7 separate regions of the Homo sapiens genome follow, and all the other regions are linked to region 6. The links come from fine-mapping of genetic effects on plasma protein levels. A gene starts in region 6. Each other region holds a variant in brackets. All regions are shown on one strand. Distances are between the middles of the regions. Region 1 overlaps SPECC1L (sperm antigen with calponin homology and coiled-coil domains 1 like). Region 2 has its middle 7.5 kb from the start of GGT5. Region 3 overlaps SPECC1L (sperm antigen with calponin homology and coiled-coil domains 1 like). Region 4 overlaps SPECC1L (sperm antigen with calponin homology and coiled-coil domains 1 like). Region 5 overlaps ADORA2A-AS1 (ADORA2A antisense RNA 1). Region 6 holds the start of GSTT2B (glutathione S-transferase theta 2B). Region 7 overlaps SPECC1L (sperm antigen with calponin homology and coiled-coil domains 1 like).

What was found. PIP is the chance, under the fine-mapping model, that this variant and not a neighbour inherited with it causes the effect. The UK Biobank Pharma Proteomics Project read protein levels with antibody pairs (Olink). The fine-mapping took linkage between variants from a reference panel, not from the people measured, so its PIPs are less certain.
Region 1: its variant is fine-mapped to the plasma level of the GSTT2B protein (UK Biobank, PIP above 0.99).
Region 2: its variant is fine-mapped to the plasma level of the GSTT2B protein (UK Biobank, PIP above 0.99).
Region 3: its variant is fine-mapped to the plasma level of the GSTT2B protein (UK Biobank, PIP above 0.99).
Region 4: its variant is fine-mapped to the plasma level of the GSTT2B protein (UK Biobank, PIP above 0.99).
Region 5: its variant is fine-mapped to the plasma level of the GSTT2B protein (UK Biobank, PIP above 0.99).
Region 7: its variant is fine-mapped to the plasma level of the GSTT2B protein (UK Biobank, PIP above 0.99).

The regions. Positions count from the first base shown.
Region 1 is chr22:24,377,737-24,381,802 of GRCh38, reverse strand. All of the region lies in intron 14 of SPECC1L (sperm antigen with calponin homology and coiled-coil domains 1 like), which reads right to left. All of the region lies in intron 15 of SPECC1L-ADORA2A (SPECC1L-ADORA2A readthrough (NMD candidate)), which reads right to left. Among named protein-coding and RNA genes, the nearest start is that of ADORA2A, 48 kb to the left of the region's middle. The variant TC/C (reference allele first, on the strand shown) is at 2,412.
Region 2 is chr22:24,250,502-24,254,567 of GRCh38, reverse strand. It overlaps the pseudogene POM121L9P. Among named protein-coding and RNA genes, the nearest start is that of GGT5, 7.5 kb to the right of the region's middle. RefSeq lists an enhancer at 2,487-2,987. The variant C/T (reference allele first, on the strand shown) is at 1,882.
Region 3 is chr22:24,408,404-24,412,469 of GRCh38, reverse strand. It overlaps SPECC1L (sperm antigen with calponin homology and coiled-coil domains 1 like), which reads right to left. Exons shown (of 17, transcript NM_015330.6): 15 at 766-882. SPECC1L-ADORA2A (SPECC1L-ADORA2A readthrough (NMD candidate)) reads right to left here. Exons shown (of 20, transcript NR_103546.1): 16 at 766-882. Among named protein-coding and RNA genes, the nearest start is that of ADORA2A, 17 kb to the left of the region's middle. RefSeq lists enhancers at 3,080-3,579, 3,580-4,066. The variant C/T (reference allele first, on the strand shown) is at 2,156.
Region 4 is chr22:24,350,575-24,354,640 of GRCh38, reverse strand. The region is part of intron 11 of SPECC1L (sperm antigen with calponin homology and coiled-coil domains 1 like); the gene reads right to left. The region is part of intron 12 of SPECC1L-ADORA2A (SPECC1L-ADORA2A readthrough (NMD candidate)); the gene reads right to left. Among named protein-coding and RNA genes, the nearest start is that of ADORA2A, 75 kb to the left of the region's middle. The variant T/C (reference allele first, on the strand shown) is at 2,171.
Region 5 is chr22:24,461,780-24,465,845 of GRCh38, reverse strand. The region is part of intron 3 of ADORA2A-AS1 (ADORA2A antisense RNA 1); the gene reads left to right. Among named protein-coding and RNA genes, the nearest start is that of ADORA2A-AS1, 31 kb to the left of the region's middle. The variant C/T (reference allele first, on the strand shown) is at 2,011.
Region 6 is chr22:23,959,292-23,963,357 of GRCh38, reverse strand. It overlaps GSTT2B (glutathione S-transferase theta 2B), which reads left to right and starts at 2,163. Exons shown (of 5, transcript NM_001080843.4): 1 at 2,163-2,338; 2 at 2,977-3,064. The coding sequence starts at 2,227. RefSeq lists an enhancer at 3,277-3,942.
Region 7 is chr22:24,383,423-24,387,488 of GRCh38, reverse strand. All of the region lies in intron 14 of SPECC1L (sperm antigen with calponin homology and coiled-coil domains 1 like), which reads right to left. All of the region lies in intron 15 of SPECC1L-ADORA2A (SPECC1L-ADORA2A readthrough (NMD candidate)), which reads right to left. Among named protein-coding and RNA genes, the nearest start is that of ADORA2A, 42 kb to the left of the region's middle. The variant G/T (reference allele first, on the strand shown) is at 2,347.

The DNA of each region.
Region 1 (4,066 bases), 420 kb before region 6:
ACGCCATTCTCCTGCCTTAGCCTCCCGAGTAGCTGGGACTACAGGCGCCTGCCACCACGCCTGGCTAATTTTTTGTATTTTTAGTAGAGCTGGCGTTTCACCATATTAGCCAGGATGGTCTCGATCTCCTGATCTCGTGATCCGCCTCCCTCGGCCTCCCAAAGTGCTGGGATTACAGGCATGAGCCACCACGCCCCGGCAATTATTAGCTTTTATATTAGGAAAAAAACCTTAGAATTCAAGTAAAGCATAACACATAAATATACGCCTGCTAAACCAGTCCAACCCATTAATTCTTTTAATTCCACTTATCTCCAGTAAGGAATATCCAATCTTTTCTTCAGTGGCCCACATATTAATGAAGTACATCCCCCAATAAAACTGTATTCTCAATGTTAATCTGAGATTAAATTACCTCAGGCAGCACTAAAATATTTTGTTCATTTATTTAAACTATTTTGTACTAGATTAAGTGATTTCATTATTCTTTAGATTTAACCAATCCATTTCTAGGTCTAGCATTTTATCAGAAAACATTGAGATTTTTCATTCAAAATAAAGCTCTCAAATCAACCTTTGGGGGCATCCTGATTACATTCAGTTAGGGTTTTCCAGGGCAAGAAAACAGTGATGCAACACAAGCTCTTAGATATAAAATCTAAAACCAAAGAAAAGTTTACTGAAAGTATAAATACTTTCCCTATTCCAGTTGGTTATTCTTGTATTATCAACCTTGTACCATCAAACCCTAAAGACAACGGCTAAAAAAATTAAAAGTGGTTGTCTCTGGACAGCAGAAATTTTAGAGATAAGGAAGCAGGGAACTGGATTACCACTTCTCATGATAAGCACTTAAAAATTATTAGAGTTAGCCCTATATTTAAATTAAAAACATAATTGTATATAAACAGAGGCACTAATTTTTAAAAAAGAGAAAAAAAGGAAGACCCAACCCTTAAAGCAATAGTACTGAAAGCTGGTTACATAATGCCCTGGACTCACAAAACAGCCTTGAGGCAGCCATTTATCCTTGTGGGGGTTTCAGTCCCAGATCTGTAAACCTGATAATAAACCAGAATGCCAAGATGTTTTCAACACAAATATTCTACTATTCTAAAGCTTCAATGTATGATAAATGGCAGGGCACAAGTTAAAAGAGAAAAATGTATTTGTTAAATAAAAGCTAAACTCATAAGGGCTTGTTTTGTAATGGATGCTTAATGAAATTACAGTGATCAGCACAGTAATTTTAGGGTGACTCTTAAGAGAGTTAACGAAAGATGATATGGGTATTAGGGAATCTATCTCCGTTGATTAGACGGCTTCTTCATAAAGCACGCACGTTCCAAGCATTAATGATCCATCTGGGGCCTCTGGGAGCAGTATGTGCTAAGTGTCACGTAACAGCTTCTGCTCTCATAAACTAGTCAAGTGTCACAACCTGCTCTTTTCTGCAGACTGTGAGTAGTCAGAGACCAAAGGACAGAACCAAAACTGCTGGCTCCAAAGGATGGGCATGATCATCCATTTATAGCTAGACAGGCAAAGGGCACTGGCACTTCTCATACGATTCTTGACAAATTAAGAACACTATTAGATATGGCTTTCAGTTTTAAAAGATTATGCATTTCAGACCAGGTGCAGTGGCTCACGCCTTTAATCCCAGCACTTTGGGAGGCTGAGGAGGGTGGGTCACTTGAGGTCAGGAGTTCAAGACCAGCCTGGCAAACATGGTGAAACCCCATCTCCACTAAGAATACAAAAATTAGCTGGGCGGGGTGGCAGGTGCCTGTAATCCCAGTTACTCTGGAGGCTGAGGCAGGAGAAGGAGATGGAGATGCATCCCAGGAGATGGAGGCTGCAGTGAGCCGAGATTGTGCCATTGCACTCCAGCCTGGGTGACAGAGTGAGATTCTGTCTCAAAAACAAAAACAAAAGATTATGCATTTCAGGCTGTCCAATGTTAACTTACAGATCTTGCAATGAAAGAACCAGTATCCTCTTTGCTTCTAAAGGGAAGGAACAGATAGATATCTGTCTCACAGGAAACAAAAGCCAACTGCCTCCCACAAGCCATACATATGTATCATCAAAGAAGTGTCGATAGGAAATGAGAAAGCAGAGAATTGGGTTTGTAGCCAAGACTGTCAAGTGTACAAAAAGAATTTTCCTAATGTATGATTAACCATCCTATATCATATTTCCCCCTGCATTTTAAGTACCAAGTAAATGGAAAAAACTTCAAATTATTAGTTTATTTGTATGTATATATATTTCTCTCTATATATTAAGGTAAACATAGAAGAATCCAAGAGGCATGGAATAACTGACTTAATGTTTGAATTATCTCCATTTAATCAACCTGATACATGGGAAAGTTCTATAATCAAGAGGAAGTAAATTTTTTTTTT[TC/C]TTTTTTCTCGGAGACAGGGTCTTGCTCTGTTGTCCAGGCAGGAGTGCAGTGGTACAATAATGGCTCACAGCAGCCTCAACTTCCCGGCTCAAGTAATCCTCCTGCCTCAGCCCTCCAAGTAGCTGGGCTGAGGTAGGAGGATTGCTACCATGCCTGGCTATTTTTTTTTTTAAATTTTAATAGAGAGAAGATCTCACTATGTTGCCAACGCTGGTCTCAAACTCCTAATCACAAGCGATCCTTCAAGGGGGAAGTAATTTATAATGTTCTAAAATTACTTAATTTAAGTTATTGTCTAGCAAAATTTAAAACTTAGGTTATATGAAGACACCTAACAGCATGGAAGAAAATACAGACACACCTCAGATGGTACTTCATCTTCTTGTGCTTCATGGATCCTGCGTTTTTTACAAATTGAGGGTTTGTGGCAATCCTGTATCAAACAAGTCTGTTGGTATCATCTTGCCAACAGTATGTGCTCACTTCAATGTCTCTGGGTCAAGTTTGGTAATTCTTGCAATATTTTAAACTTTCTCATTATTATTATAACTGTTATGGTGATGTATGACCAGTGGTCTTTGATGTTACTATAGTAATTGTTTTGGGGTGCCATGAACTGTGCCCATATAAGACAGTGAACTTAATCTATAAAGTTCTGTGTGTTCTGAATGATCCACTGACTAGCCATTCTGTCTCTCTCCCTCTCCTTGGGCTTCCCTATTCCTTGAGATATAAAAATATTAAAATTAGGCCAATTAATAACCCTACAATGGCCTCTAAGTGTTCAAGTAAAAGGAAGACTCGCACATCTTTCACTTTAAATCAAAATCTAGAAATGCTTAAGCTAATTGAGAAAAGCACGGCAAAAGCCAAAAGGCTGAAAGTTAGGCCACTTGTGCCAGTTAGCCAAGTTGTGAATGCAGAGGAAAAGTTCTTGAAGGAAATTAAAAGTGCTATACCACTGAATATACAAATGATAAGATAGCAAAACAGCCTTATTGCTGATATGGAGAAAGTTTCCGTGCTTTGAATAAAAGATCAAACCAGCTACAACATTCCCTTAAGCCAAAGCTGAATCCACAGCAAGGCCCTAACTCTCTTCAATTCTATAAATGCTGAGATTGGTGACGAAGCTGCAGAAGAAAAGTTTGAAGCTAGCAGAGGTTGGCTCATGATATTGAAGGAAAGAAGCCATCTCCATAACATATAAGTGCAAGGCGAAGCTAGCAAGTGCTGATACAGAAGCTGCAGCAAGTTACCCAGAAGATCTAGCTAAGATCACTGATGAAGGTGGCCACACTAAACAACAATTTTCAATGTGGATAAAACAGCCTTCTATTAAAAGAAGATGACATCTAGGACTTTCATAGCTACAGAGGAGAAGTCAATGCCTGGCTTCAAAGCTTCAAAGGACAGGCTGTCTCTCTCATTAGGGCCTAAGCAGCTGGTGACTTTAAGTGGAAGCCAATGCTCATTTACCAGTCCCACAATCCTAGGGCCCTTAAGAGTTATGCTACATCTACTCTGCCTGTGCTCTATAAATGGAACAACAAAGCCTGGATGACAGCACATCTGTTGACAGCATAGTTATCGAACATTTTAAGCCCACTGTTCCTTTCAAAATATTACTGCTCATTGACAATGTAACCAGTC
Region 2 (4,066 bases), 290 kb before region 6:
CACCTGTAATCCCAGCTACTTGGGACACTGAGGCAGGAGAATCACTTGAAACTGGAAGTCAGAGGTTTCAGGGAGCCGAGATTGCACCACTGCACTCTAGCCTGGGCGATGGAGCAAGACTCCATCTCAAATAAATAAATTAATAAATACAGAGCAAGATTCCATCTTAAATAAATAAATATACACCTGTAATCCTAGCAGTTCGGGAGGCTAAGACAGGTCGATCACCTGAGGTCAGGAGTTCGAGACCAGCCTGACCAATATGGCAAAACTCCATCTCTACTAAAAATACAAAAATTAGCCAGGCGTTTTGACGTGTGCCTGTAGTCCCAGCTACTTGGGAGGCTGAGACAGGAGAATTGCTTGAACCCAAGAGGTGGAGGTTGCAGTGAGCCGAGATCTCGGCTGCACTTCAGCCTGGGTGACAGAGTGAGACTGTCTCAAAAGGAATAAAAAAAATACAAAATAAAAAAAATGTAGTAAGATTGCAGAGTCGTGCCGCGGAAGCGTGCTGGTCCTATCCATGTAGTGAAGGCTGATTTCATACACAAATGTCACAAGAACTTTTTTTCTTTTTCTTTTTTTTTGAGACGGAGTCTCGCTCTGTCACCCAGGCTGGATTGCAGTGGCGCGATCTCAGCTCACTGCAAGCTCTGCCTCCCGGGTTTATGCCGTTCTCCTGCCTCAGCCTCCCAAGTAGCTGGGACTACAGGCCTGTGCAGCAGATGCAGGGGGGCCACTAGGCCCAGGCAGTCTTGGGACTTGTGTGTCTCCTGCTGTGCATCCATACTGGGTGCTTTAGAAACGGCAGGCAGACCAGAAGCCCCTGTTGCAAGTGAGGACAAAGTGTGGGAAGGCCGTGAGGGTCTGCAGTCCTAGATGGCCTGGTCCTCAACCTGCAGTGCACTGTTGATGCGCTGGAATGCCTCCTCCTTCTCCCGGTCCAGGTCTTCAGCAGTGACCCGGTACCCCATCTCTAAGGGAGGTGGCAGCATCAAAGGCTCCCCTCGCCTGCGTGGCAGCAGGGGAAACTTGCATATACGGGGCCTAGAGGCCTGGGATCTGGGGGAGCCACCCCTGGAGGCGAGTGTCTGCCCTGGTGCTGTATCTGCCGTCTTTTCACACTGGGTGTGACCCGAAGAGACAGCCTGAGGTCCGTCCTCACTCACTGTGTTTGAGGAACTGAGGGTCAGCTGGCAGTGGGATGAGGCTGGCCCCTCTTCCGCTTTTGTTCCGGGAGGCCTCCCGTAGAGCTGTAGGGGCTCGAGATGGCATTTCATTTGGGGCACGAGCTGGTCCAGGAGGTCTGGGATCTCTGGTTCTGACCTCTGGGCACCTGCTGCAGCTGTGGCTGAGGCCCAGAAATGTGAAGGGCCTCCATCCACTCCAGTAGTGACCCCAACGTGGGGTTCAATGTGGAGCGGGGAGGGGCTGCTGCGGCAGCTGCAGGAGCAGAAGTGCCATGCCTTGTTCTTCTCATGCCCGCATCCATGCTTGCAGCTGGGAAGGGGGCAGGAATCAGCGAGGTGACCTGGGCTGAGTCCTGGGAATCAGAAGAGGTGGCAGGAAGGGGATCTGAGGAGGAGAACAGGGGGCCTGGTGGTCTGTGCTTCTTCCCAGACATGGGAGCTGTAGAGGGGACCCCTGCAGCAGATGCTAAGGGGTCCAGTAGGCCCAGGCAGTCTTGGGACTTGTGTGTCTCCTGCTGTGCATCCATACTGGGTGCTTTAGAAACGGCAGGCAGACCAGAAGCCCCTGTTGCAAGTGAGGACAAAGTGTGGGAAGGCCGTGAGGGTCTGCAGTCCGAGATGGCCTTGTCCTCAACCTGCAGTGCACTGTTGATGCGCTGGAAGGCCGCCTCCTTCTCCCGGTCCAGGTCTT[C/T]AACAGTGACCCGGTACCCCAGCTCTAAGGGAGGTGGCAGCATCAAAGGCTCCCCTCGCCTGCGTGGCAGCAGGGGAAACTTGTGTGTACTGGGCCTAGAGGCCTCGGATGTGGAGGAGTCATTCCTGAGGGTGAGTGTCTGCCCTGGTGCTATATCTGCTGCCTTTTCACACTGGGTGTGACCTGAAGAGACAGCCTGAGGCCTGTCCTCACTCACTGTCTTTGAGGAACTGAGGGTCAGCTGGCAGTGGGATGAGGCTGGCCCCCTCCTCCGCTTTAGCCCCGGCAAGCCTCCCGTGGAGCTGTAGGAGCTGGAGATGGCATTTCGGTTGGTGCAGGAGCTCGTCCAGGAGGTCTGGGATGTCGGGTTATATCTGATTTCTGACCTCTGGGCATGGAGGTCTGTCTGCAGAGGCCCGGGCCCGGGCACAAAGGGAGAGAGGCCTCCATTGTCCCGCAGGGGCCGAAATGCAGACGGTGCATCCCCGGTGACCTCGGGGACCCTTCTCTGATCACCAGGATTCTCTTGGACTCTAGGGTCCTTGTCCTGCTCAGGCATCCCTGCCCCGCTCTCCTTGAGGGCCCTCAACACTATCTTCCCTGGACACAAGTCTGGGGACAGCCGGGTGTTGTGGACCCCAAAGGGGTGACTCCCGGCTCCTGGGCCCCACAGAGAGTCCATGTTCTCAGTGCAGTGGCTGAGCTGGAGGACGCCCTGGAACTCGGAGCACACAGCACTGGCTTGCTGTGGTACCTGTGCAATCAAATTGAAGGCAGGATCCCAGGAAGGAACGCAGGGCTTGCAGGATCACGGAAAACCTTCTTAGAGTTGTCTTGACACCACTGATGTCAAGTGTCCGGGTGCTTGTAGGATGGCCTGCCACTCAGTCCACGGGCAGGAGCAACGGGGAGATCCCACAGGCAAAGTGAACTGGGGGATGGGCTGAACGGGCTCCAGGCAACTGAGCCCTACTGGCAGGTCCTCGGCCTGGGCCCGAACAGGAAGGAGGGGCACAGAGTGCCCAGGTAACCGCTCCTGGGAGCAGTGGGGAACCGTCGGTTGCTTGAACTCTCGAGAGCTGGGCTCTGAGCGTCCTCGTCCAGCCGCCAACTCCGCCAAAGGCTAAGCCAGCAGTTTCTTCTGTTGCCGGGCAACGCGCCTTTTAAACCTGAGGGAGTGGGCGCGTGAGCACATCACGGCGCCCGTGACAGAGCGAGCTTAACGGATTAATAAGCGCAGCCAGGTACCCGCGCGAGGCACTTGCTGGCAATGGCGGGAGGCGGACGTGGGGGGTCATGCAATAGGTACTGGAAGGAGAGAGGCGGGCACAAAGGTTGCGGGAGGAACAGGTGCCCACAATGGTGGCAGATCTGCCCGTGGATCACTGAAGATTCCTGCTCTCCTGCTGAGGTGGAGATTGCAGTGAGCTGAGATCGCACCATTGCACTCCAGCCTGGGCAACAAGTGCAAAACTCAGTCTCCAGATAAAAAAAAGAAAAAGAAAAAAAAGAGGCCGGGCGTGGTGGCTTATGCCTATAATCCTAGCACTTTGGGAGGTCGGGGCAGACGGATCACGAGATCAGGAGTTGGAGACCAGCCTGGCCAACATAGTGAAACCCCGTCTCTAGTAAAAATACAAATTTAGTCAGACATGGTGGCACGCGCCTGTAGTCCCAGCTGCTCCGGCGGCTGAGACAGGAGAATCACTTGAACCCGGGGGCGGGCGGGGAAGGGATTGTGATGCGCCGAGATCGCGCCACTGCACTCCAGCCTGGGCAACAGAGCCAGACTCTCTCTCTTTTTTTTTTTTTTTTTTTGAGATGGAGTCTCCCTCTATCGCCCAGGCTGGATTCCAGTGGCCTGATCTCAGCTCACCGCAAGCTCCGCCTACCGGGTTCACGCCATTCTCCTGCCTCAGCCTCTGGAGTAGTTGGGACTGCAGGCGCCCGCCACCACACCCGGCTAATGTTTTGTATTTTTAGTAGAGACGGGGTTTCACCGTGTTAGCCAGGATGATCTCCATCTCCTGACGTCGTGATCCCCCTCCCAAAGTGCTGGGATTACAGGCGTGAGCCACCGCGCCCGGTGTTGAAACTCCCTTGAGGCATTTTCTTCGGCCTTCGGGTCCATCCTCTGTCTCCTCCTTGACCTCCTCATCTCCTCCTCGCCACTGCCTTGGGGACC
Region 3 (4,066 bases), 450 kb before region 6:
CCCGGCCACCCTCCCCTCCTGACCTGCTGCAGTGACCCACCAACACCCGTTCTTTCCTCACTCCTGAAGAATCCTACTTCTGCCGCACCAATGCTGTGGCACCTGAACACGCACCCCCAAAAGCTAGTTAGGAACACTCATCAAATGAGCTTCCCCCACAGGGATCTTCGAGGGTTGTCTGCAGGGCTGGGGGCTGACATGGGGGAAGCAGGGGACTGGGGTGGGGGCTGCGGGCCTGGATCCTCTCCAGTGGCCCTCTGGGTAGGGCTTCTTCCCTGACCCTGTCCCCAAGGAACTATCTGGATGAAACATTAAACCATGCCCTGGAGTGCACAGGGTTGGTGTTTCTTGCCAGTTCTAAGGCCCACAGTGCAGAATGGGCTATGGAGTGACAGCCCTCCTCAAGGTGGCAGGAGGCTGGCCTGGCCTGGTCAGCACTGCCTGACTACTCCTGCCTTCACGGAGCTTCTTGGGCCCCTCCTGGTGAAGCTCTTCATCCTAAATGTAGTCACTCAGGAAGGACTGGCTGCTCCCACTAGGAATGATATCACTTGGGGAATTCTGAACCAACCAAATACTCCACACAAGGTGGGACAGGGACTGGTGGGCTCAGCATGAATGACCTGATCCCAGAAGACCCAGATGGCACGAGGCAATCGCAAGCCAGCGCTGTGGCATGTGACCTGCTGAGGCAGGTGCTGCCCTTGGTTCTCAGCCCTCCAACCCTGTGAGGTGGGTGCCAGGAGCTGGCCCTCCATGGCCTACCTTATCCTGGCTGTTCAGTTCTTGATATGGAATGTGGGCAGGGAGATATGTATGCAGGAGGGCACAGAAGGCCAGCCCATCATTCCAGCTGCTGCTGAAGTTTGTAATGTCAATATTCTGAAGGAAAGGAAGAAAAACATGTAACCAACACATGCTGGGACCCTCTTAGGAGATGCCAAGGAGGACGCAGGAGGCCTCAGATGCTGCATGGCCTCCAAAACACAAAACCAAAACCAGGGCAGGGCGGCTGTGTCCAAGGGCTACCTGGTATCTATGACTCCCCAACCCGTCCCACCCACCAGCTGTAGATGGCTGCCCCTACGTGGTCACGCCTGGGCCTGGTATAACACGTGGCGTCTTGCTGACTTACTAGCTGTTGCATACAAAGAGAGGACCCTAGGCTGCTGAAGCTGGCCTCTACCATGACCTGTTGGGGTGACAGTACAGACCAGAGGATGTGGGTGGTAATCAATGACCCCCCCTTTTTTGTTTTTTGTTTTTTTTGGTTTGTTTGTTTGAGATGGAGTCTCACTCTGTCACCAGGTTGGAGTGCAGTGGCATGATCTCGGCTCACTACAACCTCTACCTCCCGGGTTCAAGTGATTTCTCCTGCTTCAGCCTCCCGAGTAGCTGGGACTACAGGCATGTGCCACCACACCCGGCTATTTTTTTTTGTATTTTCAGTAGAGACAGGGTTTCACTGTAAGCTAGGATGGTCTCAATCTCTTGACCTTGTGATCCACCCGCCTTGGCCTCCCGAAGTGCTGGGATTATAGGTGTGAGCCACCGCACCTGGCCGGTAATCAATGACCTTTAAAGCACCATGTATTAAAATGCAACTCATTCTCCATTGGTTGTTGAAGCATGTCAAAGATCCTCCAAGTCAGGGTGTATCTCAAAGTGCGCCCACACATGAAGATACCTTCTGCCCTTTTCACTGTAATGACACCTGCTCTGATGGATGGTGAGAAGCCAAGGAGAGCAACAACGTGGCCCCCTGAGCATTGGTCCAGGCCACGCACCACATGTACTGGAGATTGCTATAGTGTACCCCACCACAAACTTGTGGTTAAAAAAAAGTAATCTGAAAATACAGGTTTCGCTTAAAGATGTCTTTGATGAGGCAATTTAGTGGTCTGATTAAATGCCTCGATCCTCTGTGCATTGGTCTTTTTAGTGTCTGGTGTGGGGAGGTGGGATGAGTACAGGGCTCCTCAGCCCTGCAGGCTGTAGCCTCAACTCTGCCAGGGAGAAAGAAGCATGGGGCACAGGAGTGGGGCAGGGCTGTTCTGTTAAGAAAAGTTATGACTCAGCCTGACCTCCCAGATCAGGGACTCTAAGCTAAGACTTGCAGTCCATCAAAAACCTCTGCAATTTGCTGCCAGGCATG[C/T]GCCTGTGGTCCCAGCTACTCAGGAGGCTGAGGCGGGAGGATCCCTTGAGCCCAGGAGTTCAGGGCTGCAGCATGGTATGACTGTGCCTGTGAACAGCCATTACACCCCAGCCTGCCAACACAGTGAGATCCCCCCCATCTCCGAAAAAACACACAAACCACAAACCAAAACACCTCTGTAACTTGAAGGTGTCATCATCTGACAGCCCCCATCTTGCATTAGGAGCCGATTAAGGCCGGCTATGTGCTCTCCATGCCACCTCTTGGTGAACCACCTCAACTTTTTAAAATTTTTTGAGACAGGGTCTCTCTGTCACCCAAGCTGGAGTGGAGTTGACTCACTGCGGCCTTGACGGCCTCCTGGGGTTAAGCAATCCTACCTCAGCCTCCTGAGTAGCTGGGACTACAGGCTGGTACGTGCTACCACGTCCAGCTAATTTTGTTTGTTTTTTTGTAGAGATGAGGTTTCGCTATGTCGCCCAGGCTGGTCTGAAACTCCTGAGCTCAAGCGATGTCACCTCAGCCTCCAAAGCAGTGAAATTACATGCAAGAGCCACTGTACCCAGCCTTGACTTTCTTTTAAGGGGCACCTTATTCCATATTTTAAAGTATTTGTAACTATAAAAGGAATATATAATTCATTTTTTATTATTACTTTTTAAAGAGACAGGATCTCACTTTGTCTCCAGGCTGGAGTGCAGTGGCACAATCATAGCTCACTGCAGCCTTGAACTCCTGGGCTGAAGCAATCCTCCCACCTCAGCCTCCCAAAGTGCTGGGATTACAGGTGTGATCCACCTTACCTGGCCCAGAGTATTTTATCATATAAAATATTCTGCAATTCAGCTGGTATGTAGCCGTTACCCTTATTTGCAACAGTCCTTATGAAGATGAATCTACACATTTCAATTTTCCTAATTCACACTTTATGCAGACACCACAAGCTGAACAAGAACACCTCCCCACCACCATGTCCCACTTTCATTATTTCACGCCACCTTCAACTGCACCAAGAGCCAGCTTCCTAAAATTTTATTATTTTAGGACTGAGAAAGCCCAAATTTTATTATTCAATGCAAACCGTCCAGCTCCTGGGGAGCACTTTATACTCCTCCCAGGAATGAGTGATTCACAGAATGATGTTAACACTATTATTATCATTATATTATTAACTATATCTGTACAGAATCTTACAAAGTTTACAAAGCACTTTACGAATCCTGACCCCTCTTTATATACTGTTAGGACCTAACACCAAGTCAGGGACCTGGCTCAGAGACAAGGGCAGGTGGGGGCCATGGGAACCCAGGCTCAGAGCTGCAAGGATGTGTCCAACCAGCAAGGACCCAAGTAAAGCAGGCTGGGCAGGCCGCCCCTGCGAGGGAGACCGTCAGTCCAGCCTCACAGCTCTAGGCAGGTGTCCTTACACAGCAGCAGACCACGTGGAGGATCACGAGGCTGACTTCTCATCACCTGCATCATCAGAATGTATTGTCTGGCTTCTGACTGCACGTGCCCAGAACGTTCCAGTGTCTGTGCAAAGCATGAGCCTTCCAAAGGACAGCAGACCCAAGAGTTACTTTCACAGGCCATTTCCTCTCATTAACCTGAACATCTGCTGCTTCCAGCTTCTCTGATATGACCCAGAGATATTGTTATAAACTGCTGTGAGGAAAGTGACCAGATTAAGGAACGAGGAAACGCAAACCTGCCAAGAGTCGCAGGGGAAGGTGGCAGCAAGCCTCTGGTGGCTGGTGTGCCGACAGTCTGACCTGGCTACCTAAATGTGTGCCACCAGGCATCCACTGATGTCAGTCCTCCCCAAATACCTAGGCCAGGTGAGAATCCTCTCTGCCTCAGTCTGTAGTCCTCACACTTTCTGGCCACGAAGATGCAGTCCTGAGGGTAAGA
Region 4 (4,066 bases), 390 kb before region 6:
GACTCCAGGGCTGGTGCAGGAAAAAAAACCAAGATAGGCTGGAGCATCTTGTAGTGCCAGAAAGTACTTCAGGGGTGGAGGGAAGGTGCATTGAGAAAGCAAGGAGTCAATGTGAAAGATCTCTCAACAGCCACTGATGGAATAACCTGACAACAAAACAAATAAAAATGGTAGTAGATTATAATCCAAAGAACAAATATCCATGAGTCTATACTAATATAAATGAATGATGTCAATAGAATAATACATATAAATAATTCCTTACAGATGGAATAAGGAAATAGAAAACCACCACTGAAACACCACGGTAATAACTGTTGTGGGCAAAATGCATAAATAAATGCTGAAATCAGTGAGAGAAAGTTTAAGAAGGAACAAAACTGATATAGTCTAGGTGTCTGTCCCCTCCAAATCTCATGCTCAAATGTAAGCCCCAGTGTTGGAGGTGGGCCTGGTAGGAGGTACCCGGGTCATAGGAGCAGATCCCTCATGAATGGCTTGGTGCTGTCCTTGTGAGATCTGGTTGTTTAAAAGTGTGTGGCACCTCTCTCCTCTCTCTCATGCTCCCCCTTTCTTCATGTGACATTCCTGCTATTGATTTGCCTTCCACCATGACTGTAAGCTTCCTGAGGCCTCACCAGAAGCTGAGCGGATGCTGGCACCATGCCTCCTATACAGCCTGCATAACTGTAAGCCAATTAAACCTCTTTTCTTTATAAATTACCCAGCCTAATGTATTTCTTTATAGCAATCCAAGAATGGACTAACACAAAGATATTTACTAATTCCTAGCAGCCAATCACCTAACCAAGTGAACAAAGTTAATTTAACATCAGAAGTAACAAGACACATCAATCTCATGTACCCCTGATAAAATAACTTGAAAAGGACACATCACCTCTGCAGTATCCCTTCCATTAAAACATAAACTCAGGCTGGGCATGGTGGCTCATGCCTGTTATGCTAGCACTGTGGGAGGTCGAGGTGGGCGGATCACCTGAGGTCAGGAGTTCAAGACCAGCCTGGCCAATATGGTGAAACTCCATCTCTACCAAAAAATACAAAAAAATTAGCTGAGTGTGGTGGTATGCGCCTGTAATCCCAGCTACTCGGGAGGCTAAAGCATGAGAGTTGAACCCAGGAGGCGGAGGTTGCAGAGTGAGACCTTATCTCAAAAAACTCAAAAAACAAAACAAACAAACAAAAAACGAAAAAAACTCCATAAACTCAACTTAAATCAGAAGAAAATATCAGACAAGCCCATCTGAGAGACATTCTGCAAAATAACTGACAAGTATTCTTCAAAAGTGTTGAGGTCATGTGAGACAGGGGAAGAGTGAGAAGCAGCTGCAGACTGGTGGGGACTAAAGAGATAAGACAACTAAATGGAAAGTAGGAGCCTCAATTTGATTCTAGAATTAAAAAAGGACATTAGTGGAAAAACTGGTAAAATTCAAATAAATTCTGTAGGTTAGTTAATAATATTTTACTGCTATTAATTTCTTACTTTTTGTAACTGTTCTATAGTTATGTAGGATGTTCCTATAAGGGAAGCTGGGGGAAGGGAACTCTAATATTTTTGTTAAGTCTAAACTTATTTCAAAAGGAAACACACAGAGAGACAGAACACCATAAATACTGATATGCATGCTGAAGGGTAGTGATTATAACTTACTTTGTGATAAAGCAAATATAAAAGAATGCCACAGAATCTAGGCTGTAAGTAAGTGGATAATTCACGGCACAACTTCTTGCAACTTTTCTGTATGTTTGAAAATTTTCATTATAATATGTTGGGGAGAAAATAAGAGCTGAGATTGATAAAAATAAGTTCTGATTTTTATCAAGAACCACAGGGAAGAGGAAGAAGAAGGGGGAGTGACTAAATATCCAATTAGACTGTAAAGTGCAGGAGGGTAGGATTTCTATCTCATTTTATCCTGGGACTTTCATGGCCTAAGGCTAGATCTAAAGCTGAGGCAGAATCTGATTTAGAGTAAAAAAGAAAATTCTGTGAAAGTTTTTAAACAGAAGGTTTGGCTTTCCAGTAAAACCTCCTAACTTCATACAAATTTATGGTATGTACCCTTAACATAAATCATTTTTTTTTCAAAATACTCAGTTTATAAAAATCTCTGGCCTCAAGTAACACAATTTAGACAGGTAATAA[T/C]GGTATGAAATTTCCTTACAGAACACAACTACACTTGGACTAACGAACTTCTTAAGACATCTATATGCCTGAGCTGAGAGACACGGTGATAGGGTCACACTGACACTGGGCAATCCCAGGCTTCTCAACCATTTACACCAGCCAGCTGAGGTTTATGCTTAACATTCTGGAGCTCATCTGGTCACTGTGCACTTTCCAACTACCTGTATCCATGTACTTGGCAGCAGAATCTGTGCTTTTCAGCTTAGGGCATAAAGCTAATTCATATACTATCTACAAAGATTCACTAAGGTGGCACCAGTCATGACCCTAGCCATTTAATTCCACTGCTGGTAATACCAACAAAAGAGCATTTGATTAAGTGCATTTATAGTAAGATTTCTCTGGTATGAAACATTTTCCTGCAAGTGCATGATGCTAAAGGATAATAGATTTAAAAAAAAAAACTATTGTAGAGCAAGAGGCAGCATCTTTTTTTTTTTGAGACAGAGTCTCGCTCTATTCCCCAGGCTGGAGTGCAGTGGCGCAATCTCGGCTCACTGAAAGCTCCGCCTCCCGGGTTCACGCCATTCTCCAAGAGGCAGCATCTTTTTAAACTTCAGTAATGAAGACACTTAAATTTTTTAAACGAAAATTACACACTGTATTTTTAAATTCATCCCTAAGTAAATAAGACAACCAAGGAAGAAAAGCAGTTCAAGACAGAGCTCAGAAATCCTACTCTCATCACAATTTGGAAAACCACAGTGGCTTTTTATGGCCACGAATCATTTGGTTGTTCTTAGTTTTCTGAGTGGTTCTTTTCTTGAATGACTGTTTAAGATAAACGATCACAGTATCAACTACTGTGATATAGATTCATCTAAGTGTGTTTCCTTTCTCCTGTATTTGCAATGTCTCAACCACACTCCACTAAGGCATGACAACAGACTGAAGTGGAGAATGAGACCAGCTTTTACATAGACTGACGGCATGTACCCCCATGCCGCTGGCACTACCGTTTGATGCATCACCAGATGATAAAATAAGAGCCAGGAATAGAATCTTAATGCATTTAATCTGTGTTTTCAATAACCTTGGCCTACAGACCTTCCACACCCATTCTCCACCCACAAAAGCCAAGGTAACAGAAATAATTAAACGGTAGTCTTTGCCCAATAATATTCCAAATTCACTTATTCCTAAGAGTCACTTGGGGTGCTTGTGAAAATGGCATATCCAAGCTACTGAGTCTACATCATTAGATCTGAGGGGAGGCCCAACATTCTATATTTTAACAAGTGACTCAGGTAAGCTTGAGACACACCACTGGTGCTGGTTTCCCCTGGTAAACCTCGCCCTGCTCTAACCCCATCAAGATAAGCCTGGAAAGCAGCAGTGGAGAGTGGAGAAGGCCTCGAGGGTTGGCTTCAGCTGAGCTCAGGAGGTATGGGAAGACCCTGAGCCATTTCTCAGTGCAGCACTCCACTCTCCTCAGAGGCCACCTGGAACATGGAGCGTCACTGTCCTCTGATGCCCCAGGATCACCTCAGTGCCCTCTGATAGGGGTCTCTCCTCCTGGGCTTTCTCAGGCTTGCAGCCACACCACCGTGCCCAGGCTGGACTCACAGCTTTAGGGTACTGGCACAGGGTTATACTTACCCTCAGAGGCTGCTGCAGACTTGCACTGGCTCTGACCACACTTAACGCAGACTGAAGAAGGTCAAAAGGCTGACTATTGACAGAACTAGGGCACACCTACCAAGCAGCAGAGTGGAAACGTTCCTGAATTCCTGGTTACCATCTCTGCCTTCAACACATAGAGCTTTTTAAAGATGCCTAGGACACAACTTGTGTAGGTGCTTTAGTTATTTGCTGGCAGCTAAGCAAAATCCTGCAGGCAACTCAGGCGTCTAA
Region 5 (4,066 bases), 500 kb before region 6:
GCCACATTCCTTTTGCAACCTAATCTCAGAAGCGATATCCCATCACTTTTGTTGTATTCTTGTTATCAGCAGTGAGTCACCAAGTTCAGCCCACATACAAGGATGTGAATACCACGAGGCAGAGATCATGGGAGCCATCTTAGAGGCTGCCTGCCATACCTTGCCAGATGGATAGGATTTAAGTAAGGCATAGTAAGCATTCTAGTTAGTGAATTGGAGTTTTGAAAGGTTTGACTGGGGATGACCCTTGGTTGGAAAAAGACATCTAAATAGGAGGGTAGGAGGCCCAGATTGAACTGGGTTTTCAATGCCAGGCCAAAGAGTTTTACAGTGATGTGCCACATAACACATCTAATGGTGGGCCCGTAAGATTATAATGGAGCTGAAAAATTCCCATTGCCTGGTGATGTCATGGCCATTATACCATCCTATTGCAGTGCATTACTTACGTGCTTTTGATGATGTTGGTGTAAACACACCTATTGCACTGCCAGTCATATAAAAATATAGCACATACGATTACATACAGTGCATAATACTTCATAATAAATGATGATGTTACTAGTTTATATATTTACTATACTATTAATCGTTATTTTAGAGTGTACTCTTTCTACTTATAGGAAAAAAAAGTTAACTGTAAAACAGCCTCAGGTACATCCTTCAGGAAATATTTGAGAAGAAAGTAGTATTATCATAGAGGATAGCTCCATGCATATTATTGCATGGAGCTTCCAGTGGGACAGGATGTGGAGATGGGAGACAGTGATATTGATGATCCTGACCCTGGGTAGGGAGGGTCTCTGGATAGCCCTGACCTAGGTTAATGTGTATGTGTCTGTCTTAGTTTCAAACAAAACTGTTTAAAAAGTAAAACAAAAATAAAATTTTAAAAATGGAAATAAACTTATAGAATAAGGATATAAATAAGCTATTTTTGTACAGCTGTACAATGTTTTGGTATTTTAAGCTAAGGGTTATTACAAAAGAGTCAAAAGGTTAAAAATTAGAAGGTTTATAATGTCAAAAAGTTACTATAAGCTAAGCTTAATTTATTGAAGAAAGAAAAATTTAAAAATACATTTAGTGTAGCCCAAGTATACAGTGTTTATAAAGTCTACAGTAGTGCACAGTAATGCCGTGGGCCTTCACATTCATTCACCACTCACTCACTGACACACCCAGAGCAACCTCCAGTCCTGCAAGTTCCATTCATGGTATGTGCCCTCTGCAGGTGTACTGTCTAAAAAATTTTTGGCCGGGCATGATGGCTCATGCCTGTAATCCCCGCACTTTGGGAGGCCAAGGCGGGTGGATCACGAGGTCAGGAGATCGAGACCATCCTGGCTAACATGGTGAAACCCCGTCTCTACTAAAAACATAAAAAATAAGCCGGGCATGGTGGCACGCACCTATAGTTCCAGCTACTCAGGAGACTGAGGCAGGAGAATCGCTTGAACCCAAGAGGCGGAGGTTGCAGTCAGCCAAGATCGCGCCACTCTACTCCAGCCTGGGTGACGGAGCAAGACTCCATCTCAAAAAAAAAAAAAAAGGAACTAAGTCTATTTTATTCCTATTGTATCTGTATAATTTACAATAGAGGTTGGCATATAGTAGGTGACCATGAAAATTTGTTGACTGAATAATGCAGTTACCAGATTTGTTTTTTGAAATTTCTGACAATCTAATCCCAAGGAAGCTTATGTATTTACTTTAGGAGCTTCTAATCAGGATATAAATGTTGTCCCCTATTTCTTTTCTTTTCTTTTTTTTTTTGAGACAGAGTCTTGCCCTGTTGCCCAGGCTGGAGTGCAATGGCGTGATCTCGGCTCACTGTAACCTCTGCCTCCCAGGTTCAAGCGATTCTCCTGCCTTAGCCCCCTCAGTAGCTGGGACTACAGGCATGTGCCACCACGCCCAGCTATTTTTTTGTATTTTTAGTAGAGGCGGGGTTTTGCCATGTTGTCCAGGCTGGTCTTGAACTCCTGACCTCAGGTGATCCACCTGCCT[C/T]GGCCTCCCAAAGTGCTGGGATTACAGGTGTGAGCCACTGCACCCGGCCTACTTGTCCCCTATTTTTAAGGCAACATTATTCAAATTACCCAGGACATAAGAAAGGGGGAAGTTGAGCTTTAATCATGGGCCTAAATCCTTCCCTGTGACTAAAAGCTCTTTAAACAGTTCATCATTCTGTCGAGCCTCAGAATCTTGGAAGACAAACTTGGTGTCTAAGAACAGACAAAACTGGTTCCACCCACTTAGCAGTTCAGGAGTACAACCTGCCAGTAGACTGGTCAAGGTCCCAACACCTGGTCCTGCCCATTAGTCACGCTGCCTCCTGCCTTACTGGCTGACCAGAAGCTATTTTTGTGCAATGCCGTTACGTATGAAGAGAGAACTTGTTCTGGGGGAAGGAGTAAGGGAAGCAAAACCGTAAGGTGGGTGTATTAGTTCTGCTATGGCTGCCATAACAAAATACCACAGACTGGGTGGCTTAAACAGGAAATTTATTTTTCATAGTTATGAAGGCTGGAAGTCCAAGATCAAGATGTTGGCAGGGTTGGTTTCTTGTGAGGTGTCTCTCCTGGGCATGCCAATGGCTGTCTTAACGCTGTGTTCTCCCATGGCCTTTTCTCTCTGCACATACATCCCTGGTGTCTCTTCCTCTTCTTGGAAGGACACCAGTCCTATTGGATTAGAGCCCTGCTCTTATGACCTTATATAACCTTAATTACCTCTTTAAAGGCCTTATCTCCAAATACAGTCACCCTGGGGATTAGGACTTCAAAATATAAATTTAGGGGAGACAATTTGATAGGCAAGGTTTATTTCAAGTATGTCTCTTACCCTCTCATCCATACTCTTATAAAGGAATGATAATCTCCCATCTGTGGAGATGGCAGTTGATGATCCCTAAAAATTCTTCACATCCATGGTCTTGTGATATTACAGCAGCCTCCAAGTTAGCAGAGGTACTGTCATTATCCTTCCACTTCAGATGAAGAAACAGACCAAGAGGGTTAACAGGTTCTCCCAGTCACAGAGTATGGAATCTGGTTTCCGACTCCTGGGCCTCTCTGTGCTTGCCCTTGGCTCCTCAGGACTGGCCCCTGCAATGCCCCCACCCAGATTCTTTTTTCTGTTTTTGAGGTAGGATCTCACTCTGTTGCCCAGGCTGGAGTGCAGTGGCATAATCCTGGTTCACTGCAGCCTTGACCTCCGGGGCTTAAGCAATTCTCCCACCTTGGCATCCCAAGTAGTGCACACTACCACACCTAGCTAACATTTTTTTTTTTTTTTAACTTTTAGTACCGACGAGGTCTTGCCACGTTGCCCAGGCTGGCTCAAACTCCTGGGCTTGAGCGATCCTCCCAAAGTACTGGGATTACAGGCATGAGCCACCAAACCTGGCCCTCCCCACCTAGATTCTAACTCCCCAGTTTTTCTTCCTCCTGCTCTACTCCATCAAAACTTACCTACCTTTCAAAGTTCTTCCATTTGATTTTCAAAGTGATGACTAACTGGATGAATAAACCATTATTAATAAACTATGTTGATTTGTTAGTGAATGAGATATTACTAGAAGGGAGCTAGGCTAAACACATTAACAACCTATGAGATTTGACATCTTGAAAAATATTTTTTTCACATACCATATCCAACTTACTTATATTCTGACAGAAATTATGTAAAGTAGATATTATTATTATCTCTTTTTCCAAAAAAACAGATTCAGAGATTAGGTAGCTAGGCCAGGATCACACAGGTAAGTAGCAGAGGTGGAACTTGAACCCAGATAACTGCATATACTTTTCACTACGTCTTGCCCCACAGCCAAACTTTATTAGTTAGTTCAGAAGACTGTTACCCTGAAGTTCACCTCTGAATAGTTAAAGATGTGGCCTTCCCTCGCCCGTCTAGTCTACCCTAACCTACCCTCAATTGAGTTCCCACAGTGCTGGGACTTGAATCTCAGCTCCATTCCTGCTTAGCTGTGGTGATCACAAGCACATTTTTTCCCTCCTCACTGGGCTTTTGTTTTTTCACCTGTGAAATTAAAGCATTGACT
Region 6 (4,066 bases):
TCCTCCCTGGAATCTGGTTACAGTTTATGCTCCCAATCAGTAAGGTCAGAGTGGGGCCTGAGCCTCTGCATTTCCAACAAGCTCCCTGGTGATGCTGATACTCCCAGTCCATTGACCACACTTTGGATAGGAAGAGTCTACACTTGCTCTACTCAACTTCTCTCCATTCTGTCCTCAAACACACCACGCTTCCTTCCCCACCAGCTGGAGGGGGCTCTGCTCCCAGGCCCCAGAGGTCAAGGCAGACACAGTTAAGGTGTGGAAACCTCCTTATTGCCCGATGGATCCTCCAGAGAGGCGGTCCCTTACTTTCAGCAGGGCGCGTGTCTACCTGTTTCATGCTGTCTCACACACAGGGTGCCACCCCTGTGCTGGGCACTGGGTAAGTGCTCTGTACATATTAATTAGGAGTACTCATTTCAAAAATATGTGTGCCTTTGATAAATAAAAACAGTATGTGCATGTTGTGTTGGTGTGTGCTTCCTTGATTATTACTGAAGTTAAACATGTTTTCATCCATGTATTGACCATTTCTCTTTGTCCTTCAATGAAACCTCTGCTGATTTCCTTCGCTCATTTTTTTCCTGTGTCTTCGTCTGATGAGTTTCTCTTCTTTTTGTTTGTTCGTTTGTTTGTTTTGAGACAGTCTCGCTCAGTGGCCCGGCTGGAGTGCAGTGGTATGATCTCAGCTCACTGAAACCTCTGCCTCCAAGGTTCAAGTGATTCTCCTGTCTCAGCCTCCCGAGTGTGCCACCGCACCCAGCTAATTTTTGTATTTTTAGTAGAGACGGGGCTTCACCGTGTTGCCCAGGCTGGTCTCAAACTCCTGACCTCAACTGATCCGCCCATCTCTGCCTCCCAAAGTACAGGGATTACAGGCGTGAACCACCACACCCTACCTGTCTGATGGGTTTCTAAGAACATCTTAAAGGACATTACTTCCTTCTGACGTATCTTTTACCGAGATCCTTCCCAGTTTTTTGCTTAAGGTTAATCCATTTTTTCCTCCACAAAGTAACCTTGTATATGTATTGGTTTTTTCTTTGTTGAGTTCTCCCACTGTTCTGAGGCTTAGAAAGTCCTTTCATACCCAGACATCAGAGAAACAGATCCCGTGAGAGTAACTGGGATTGCAGGTGTGGGCCAGCATGCCCTGTTATCACTCCCTTTCTCTGAGTCAGCTTTTCTCTCTCAGTCTCGTCTACTCCTCGAACTCAGGAAATGTCACTACAGGTGGCCCCAGCTCCCGTTTACCTCCCCATAGGGAGCTCCTCTCTCCAGTTCCAGTTTCAAAACTCCCAAGGAAGCATTCTGGTTCACTCGCTTGGGCCACTGGCCAGAGGGATGGGATACTCTGAAAGATTCAGCTAGAGTCCCGGGCCCAGCCCTGGACCATCACTGTGCCCCCTGGTGAGATGCCAGGGCTGGGATTCAGGGAGAAGAAAGGAGGTTCCCGGACAGTCATTCCTGCCTCCCGCGGCTGCGGGCTCCCTGCCCCCATCCTGTGCACGAAGTGGGAGCTCCCGCTGTCTGGCAGCTCCCGCTGTCTGGCAGCAGCTGCTCTGCAGGGGACAGTCTGGACGGCAGAAAGTTCATCCTTAACCCCAGCCTTCCAGTCAAGGTTCCCACCAGTTTGGGACACCTGCAAGTGTCACATCCCACTGGGTGAAACTCTAAGATCCCTTTTAGGGGATCCCATTCGCTCCCTCCCTTCCGCCACCATGCAGCGCCGAGAAACAGAGCTCTGAACGAACCCTCAGATGTCCGTGCGCTGGGGCCTTTCCAGGACGGCGGCGCCCAGTCGTTTCTGGGTCAGGGCGACGCCTGGAACTGGGCAGGGTCCCTGGCACCGGGATCCCGAAAAGCAGACCTGCTTCTCCCTGTCCAGCCGGTTCCCCTTCCCCTTGCAGTCGGCCCCCTGCATCCGCGTCCTCCCTGCCAGTCGAGGGTCCCCAGCTCCAACTCCACCCTCCCAGCTGTGCGTTCATAGCGACCGCCCTCCCTGTAGGGACGCACGGATCTGGTGGTGGAGTCTTGGCCGGCAGGACTGGACAGGAACCGAAGGGGCGAGGCGGGTCCGGGGGTGGTGCGCTCCAATTGGGTGCTGTCCCCAGGGGGTGGGGCCTGATCCCCTATTTCCCGGCGCGCCGGGATCCTGCCACAGCTGCTGCCCACACCGCGCTCAGCGCCTTCACTGCCATCCCCGCTGTCCTTGCCGCCCCCGCCATGGGCCTAGAGCTGTTTCTTGACCTGGTGTCCCAGCCCAGCCGCGCCGTCTACATCTTCGCCAAGAAGAATGGCATCCCCTTAGAGCTGCGCACCGTGGATTTGGTCAAAGGTGGGCCCAGCCCGTTTCCCCGCGTGTCCACAAACCCAGTGCACCCCCAGGCCCCCGCCCTGCTCTGCCCTGAGCGTCTCGCCGCCCGCACAGCCCCCTCACCTCCTCCTGCAGCGTCTGCCACCAGAGAATGCTGTGGACTGAGTGGCCTTGGAGGGATCACAGCCTCTCTGAACCTTAGCTTGCCTTCTGAAAAGGAGGATAATGTTACCTTCTGCTCTGTAGGGATGGAAAGAAAATACTGAATGGAGTTGACAGAGTTCTTGCGTGGAATGCACGCATATAAATTCACAAAGCCCAGAAGACCTTGGGAAGAAGGACATGCTGTTGTGAGAATTAAGAGATGGGAAGAGATGAGCCACCCCAGTTTGCCTCCCCTCCCCTGGCCCACCAGAGTCCGGCTAGAAAACTTCTCTTTATCCACCTGCTGCACCTGGCCCCACCCACCAAAGCCCCCCAGCTGCCCCGGAATGTGGCAGGGCAGGGAGGCCCAGCCAGGGAGTGAGGCTGATCCAGGCCTCTAGTCCCAGACCTTGCTGTTTCTCAGGGCTGTGGGGCTCCGCTTGGGGAGGAGGAGGGAGGGTGTAGAGGTGCAGCGTTTTTATTCTGAAGACCTTTTCTGACTTCTTCCTCTTCAGGGCAGCACAAGAGCAAGGAGTTCTTGCAGATCAACAGCCTGGGGAAACTGCCGACGCTCAAGGATGGTGATTTCATCTTGACCGAAAGGTGCCCTCCTTCCCTCACCCCTCACCGCATCCGGAGCCCATGTGACCTTGGCTCTCCCCACTGGCCCCGGGCCCCAGTGGCCCTCCCATACCCCATGGGGCAGCGAGGGAGGGGAAAGGCGAGGGATCTGGCCGGGCGCGGTGGCTCACGCCTGTCATCCCGGCACTTCGGGAGGCCAAGGCGGGCGGATCACGAGGTCAGGAGACCGAGACCATCCTGGCTAACACCGTGAAACACCGTCTCTACTAAAAATGGAAAAAAAATTAACCGGGCGTGGTGGCGGGCGTCTGTAGTCCCAGCTACTCTGGAGGCTGAGGCAGGAGAATGGTGTGAACCCAGGAAGCGGAGCTTGCAGTGTGCTGAGATCGCGCCACTGCACTCCAGCCTGGGCGACAGAGCTAGACTCCGTCTCAAAAAGGCCGGGCGCGGTGGTTTACGCCTGTAATCCCAGCACTTTGGGAGGCCGAGGTGGGCGGATCACGAGGTCAGGAGATCGAGACCATCCTGGGTAACACGGTGAAACCCTGTCTCTACTAAAAATACAAAACATTAGCAGGGCGTGGTGGCGGCCGCCTGTAGTCCCAGCTACTGGGGAGGCTGAGGCAGGAGAATGGCGTGAACCCAGGAGGCGGAGCTTGCAATGAGCAGAGATAGCACCACTGCACTCCAGCCTGGGTGACAGAGGGAGCCCACTCCAGCCTGGGCGACAGAGGGAGACTCCGTCTCAAAAAAAAAGGAAAGAAAGAAAGGAGAGGTATCTGGGGAGAAGGTACAGCTTGGGGTGTGACCGGGATGAGCAGGGGCTGACAGAACATGTCCCCCCACCTCTCATCTTCCAGCCTTTTCTGAGCCGCAGGGCCTCTCCACTCCCAGACTGAAGGGTATTAGAAGAGAAGACAAGGGAACATTTTTCCACTGTTGCGCATTTGTTCAACAAATGCTAGCTGAAAAGAGCCTCTAGTGACTTGTTGCAGACTACCCAATCTACCCAGGCCGGGCCTA
Region 7 (4,066 bases), 420 kb before region 6:
GCTAAAAGAATTTTCACAAAGTGAATATACCATGTAGTCGCCTCCCCCAAATCAAGATACAGAATGAATCAGAATCCCAGAAAGGATCCCTCAGTTCCCCTAAAGATAACCACTATTCTGACATCATAATAGATTAATCTCACCACTGTTTTGGCTTCATTTAAATGGAATCATAGTTTAGACTCCTGTGCATCTGGCTGCTTCTGCTCAATATTACATGTGTGAGATTCATCCATGCTGCTGCATGTTGCAACAGTTTATTCTTTTTTTTGCTTGTTTTGTAGTACCTTATATATCACAATTCATTTATCCATTTACGTCTTAATGATTATTTGGGTTGTTTCCAGCTTTTGATTCTTATGGAGACTATTCAACTTCAGCAGATACTGCCAACATTTTCCAAACTGGCTAGAACAGTTTAGAGCCCTGTCAGCAGGGTGCAAGTGTTCTTGTTTCTCTGCTTCCTTGCCAACACTTGGTGTTATCAGCTTTTTAAATCAGGCTTTCTGTGTCTAATCTGCTGCAGACATAGCAAAGCCTGGCTATAATTTATTTTTTAAATGCTAATAAAAATTAGATCCTGAGGGCCAGGTGCAGTGGCTCACGCCTGTAATCCCAGCACTTTAGGAGGCCGAGGTGGGCTGATCACAAGGTCAGGAGATTAAGACCATCCTGGCTAACACAGTAAACCCAGTCTCTACTAACAATACAAAAAAAATTAGCCGGGTGTGGTGGCGGGCGCCTGTAGTCCCAGCTACTTGGGAGGCTGAGGCAGGAGAATGGTGTGAACCTGGGAGGTGGAGCTTGCAGTGAGCTGAGATAGCGCCACTGCACTCCAGCCTGGATGACAGAGCAAGACTCCGTCTCAAAATAATAATAATAATAATAATAACAATAATAATAATTAGATCCTGAAAATTTTTTCACTTGCTATTAACTCTCATATTTTACATGCATCTTTGTTAGTATTTCCTACATCATACTCATGTCTGGAAACAATTTTATTTCTTTCTTTCCAATTTTATACCTCTTATCTCTCTTTCTGCCTTACTGCACTGACTAGAACTTTATTTTTTAATTTTTTGTAGGGACGGGGGTCTCACTATGTTGCCCAGGCCAAGTCTCAAACTCTTGGCCTCAGGGGATCCTCCTGCCTCAGCCTCCCAATAGAGCTTTACATACAAAACTGAATAGAAGTGATGAGAGCAGGGTCTTGTCTCTTTCCTCATCTCTGGAAGAAAGCTTTCAATAAGTCACCATTAAGCTTAATGTCCACTATAAATATTTTTTGTAGATGCCCTTTATCATCTTTTTAAAAGTCCCTTTATTCCCAGTTTGTTAGAAATTTGTTCTGTGGGGCTTTTTTTTTTTTGAAACTAATAAACAGGAGTTAAATTTTATCAAATGCTTTTGTTCATCTACTTTGATTAGATCACATTTTCCCCTCCATTTTGATAACTTACTCTGAAGGACTTTAATTCATTGAAATCTTTTGACAGTGCATGTGGCCAATTCTGATGAATATACTGTGGCCAATTAGAAGGAATGTGCAATCCACTATTGTCTGGTGCAGTGTTTTATAGCTCAGTCAGGACAAAGTAGTTAATAGCATTACTTACATCTTCTATAGCTCTACTAAATTTCATTTGCTTTTTCTATTCGTTAATGAGAGAAGCGTGTTAAAATCTCCAAATATGCCTATTTCGCCTTTTAGTTCTATCAGTTTTCCTTTATATTCTCTGGGGCTATGTTACCTGATGCATATGAATTTATGATATGCTCTCAGTGCCTCTAAAGTCTTACTGGGCAGCATGAAGTCTTCCAATGTTGTTTTCTAAGAGTGCCTTGGCTATTGTTATTGTTTTAATTCTTTATCATTACGGACAATCTCAATCTCTAGTAATATTTCTTACTGAGAAATGATGCTTTGAAATTAGTATAGCTCTTCCAGCAGTCCTTTGGTTAGTGCTCGCATAGGACATCTTTTCCAACTCTTTTACTTTCAGTCTTTCCATTTAAAGTGGGTCTCTTATACACAAATCATGGTTGAGTCTATTGTTTTTAACATGAAAATCTTTGTCTTTTAACTGGAATATTCAGCCTATTTACCTATAATGTGATTTTTACATATATGGATTTACATCTATTACTATACCTTTAGTTCTTTGTTCCTTTTCTCTCCTTTCCTGCCTTATTTTGGATGAATCAAGTATTAATATTCTACTTATCTTCTATTAGCCCCTTATTTTCCATTCTTTTATTACTTTGCTAATATGTGATTTTAAATATTATAGCCACACTGAAAAAGTCAAAAAATATATATTTTATCAAATATATTAAAAATAT[G/T]ATCATTTCAACATGTAATCAGTATTTTTTAAATTTTTTAAATGAGGTAGTTTACATTCTTTTTTCTTTTTTTTTTTTTTGAGACGGAGTTTCGCTTTGTGCCCCAGGGTGGAGTTCAGTGGCGCGATCTCAGCTCACTGCAAGCTCTGCCTCCCGGGTTCAGCCATTCTCCTGCCTCAGCCTCCCAAGTAGCTGGGACTACAGGTGCCCACCTAATTTTTTGTATTTTTAGTTGAGACGGGGTTTCACTATGTTAGCCAGGATGGTCTTGATCTCCTGACCTCATGATCCGCCCACCTTGGCCTCCCAAAGTGCTGGGATTACAGGCGTGAGCCACCGCACCCGGCCTACATTCTCTTTTTCTATATTAAGTCTTCAAAGTCTTCAAAATCTGGTGTTTTATAATCACAGCACATCTCAACTCAGAATAGCCACATTTTAAGTTCTCAGTAACTCCATGCAGCCAACGTCAACTGTAGCAGAGTGTAGCCCTAGAGATTTACAATGTGAAACCCTTCACTTATTCAGAGTCTATGACAAATTAATTTCCTAACCTCCTGAACAATTCAAAGACCTTGCAACACCTTAATTACATTTACTGTCCCCCTCCTAACTTTTAAACCATTTTATCTTAAATTTTCAAGCTACATATATCTTTAAACAAGATATTTTTATTACACTGCAGTCAATATTCATATATATTTACTTTCACATTTACTCTTCCACTGTTCTTTATTCCTTCCTGAAATTTTGTTTCCCTATGGGATTATTTTCTTTCTGCTACAAGAACTTCCTTTTTCTTTCAGAATGGGCCTGCTGGTGACAAATCCTCTTTCTGTTACCTATTGAGAAATCGGCTGTTGATCCCATTATTCTTCTTAACCTAGTATCTTTTTTCTCTAGCAATTAAATATTTTTTTCACTGTCCTTGACTTTTAGCACTTATGACACTCCTAGCCCTCTCTTTTGGTATAACCCAATTGTATGTGTCTTAACCCTTCTATTATGTCCCTTGTCTCCATTACACTATGTTTTTTTCATCCTTTCATTTCTCGGTGCTTCACTGTGGATATTTCTTACTGATCAATCCTCTAATTCACAAGTCTTTTCTGTGTTCAGTGGTTGTGAAACACATATATGGGAGTTCCTAGCTCAAGCTAATGAATTTTTTAGTCCTTAAATTTTCATTGGGCCAGGCACGGTGGCTCACGCCTGTAATCCCAGCACTTTGGGGGGCCCAGGTGGGCGGATCACCTGAGGTCTGGAGTTCGAGACCAGCCTGGACAACATGGCAAAACCCCATCTCTACTAAAAAAAAAAAAAAAAAAAAAAAAAAAAAAAAAAAAAAAATAGTGGTGGGTGCCTGTAATCCCAGCTACTCAACAGGTTAAGGCAGGAGCATCACTTGAACCTGGGAGGCAGAGGTTGCAGTAAGCCGAGATCGCACCATTGTACTCAGGCAAGAAGAATGAAACTCTGTCTCAAAAAATAAAATCAAAAAATAAAATAAAATTTTGATTTGATTCTATTTTACAGATTCCAGTTCTCCGGTAAAACTCTCTATCTCTTCATCTGTTTCCTTAAACTCATAAATTGGTTATTTTAAAAGCCTATCTAAGGGTTCCAATATCTGGATCACCTCTTCTTTTCTTGTTACTCATTCTTTCTCTTGATTTTCATTCATTTGATCCTGCTTATTGGCATGCCTATTTTAATTAAT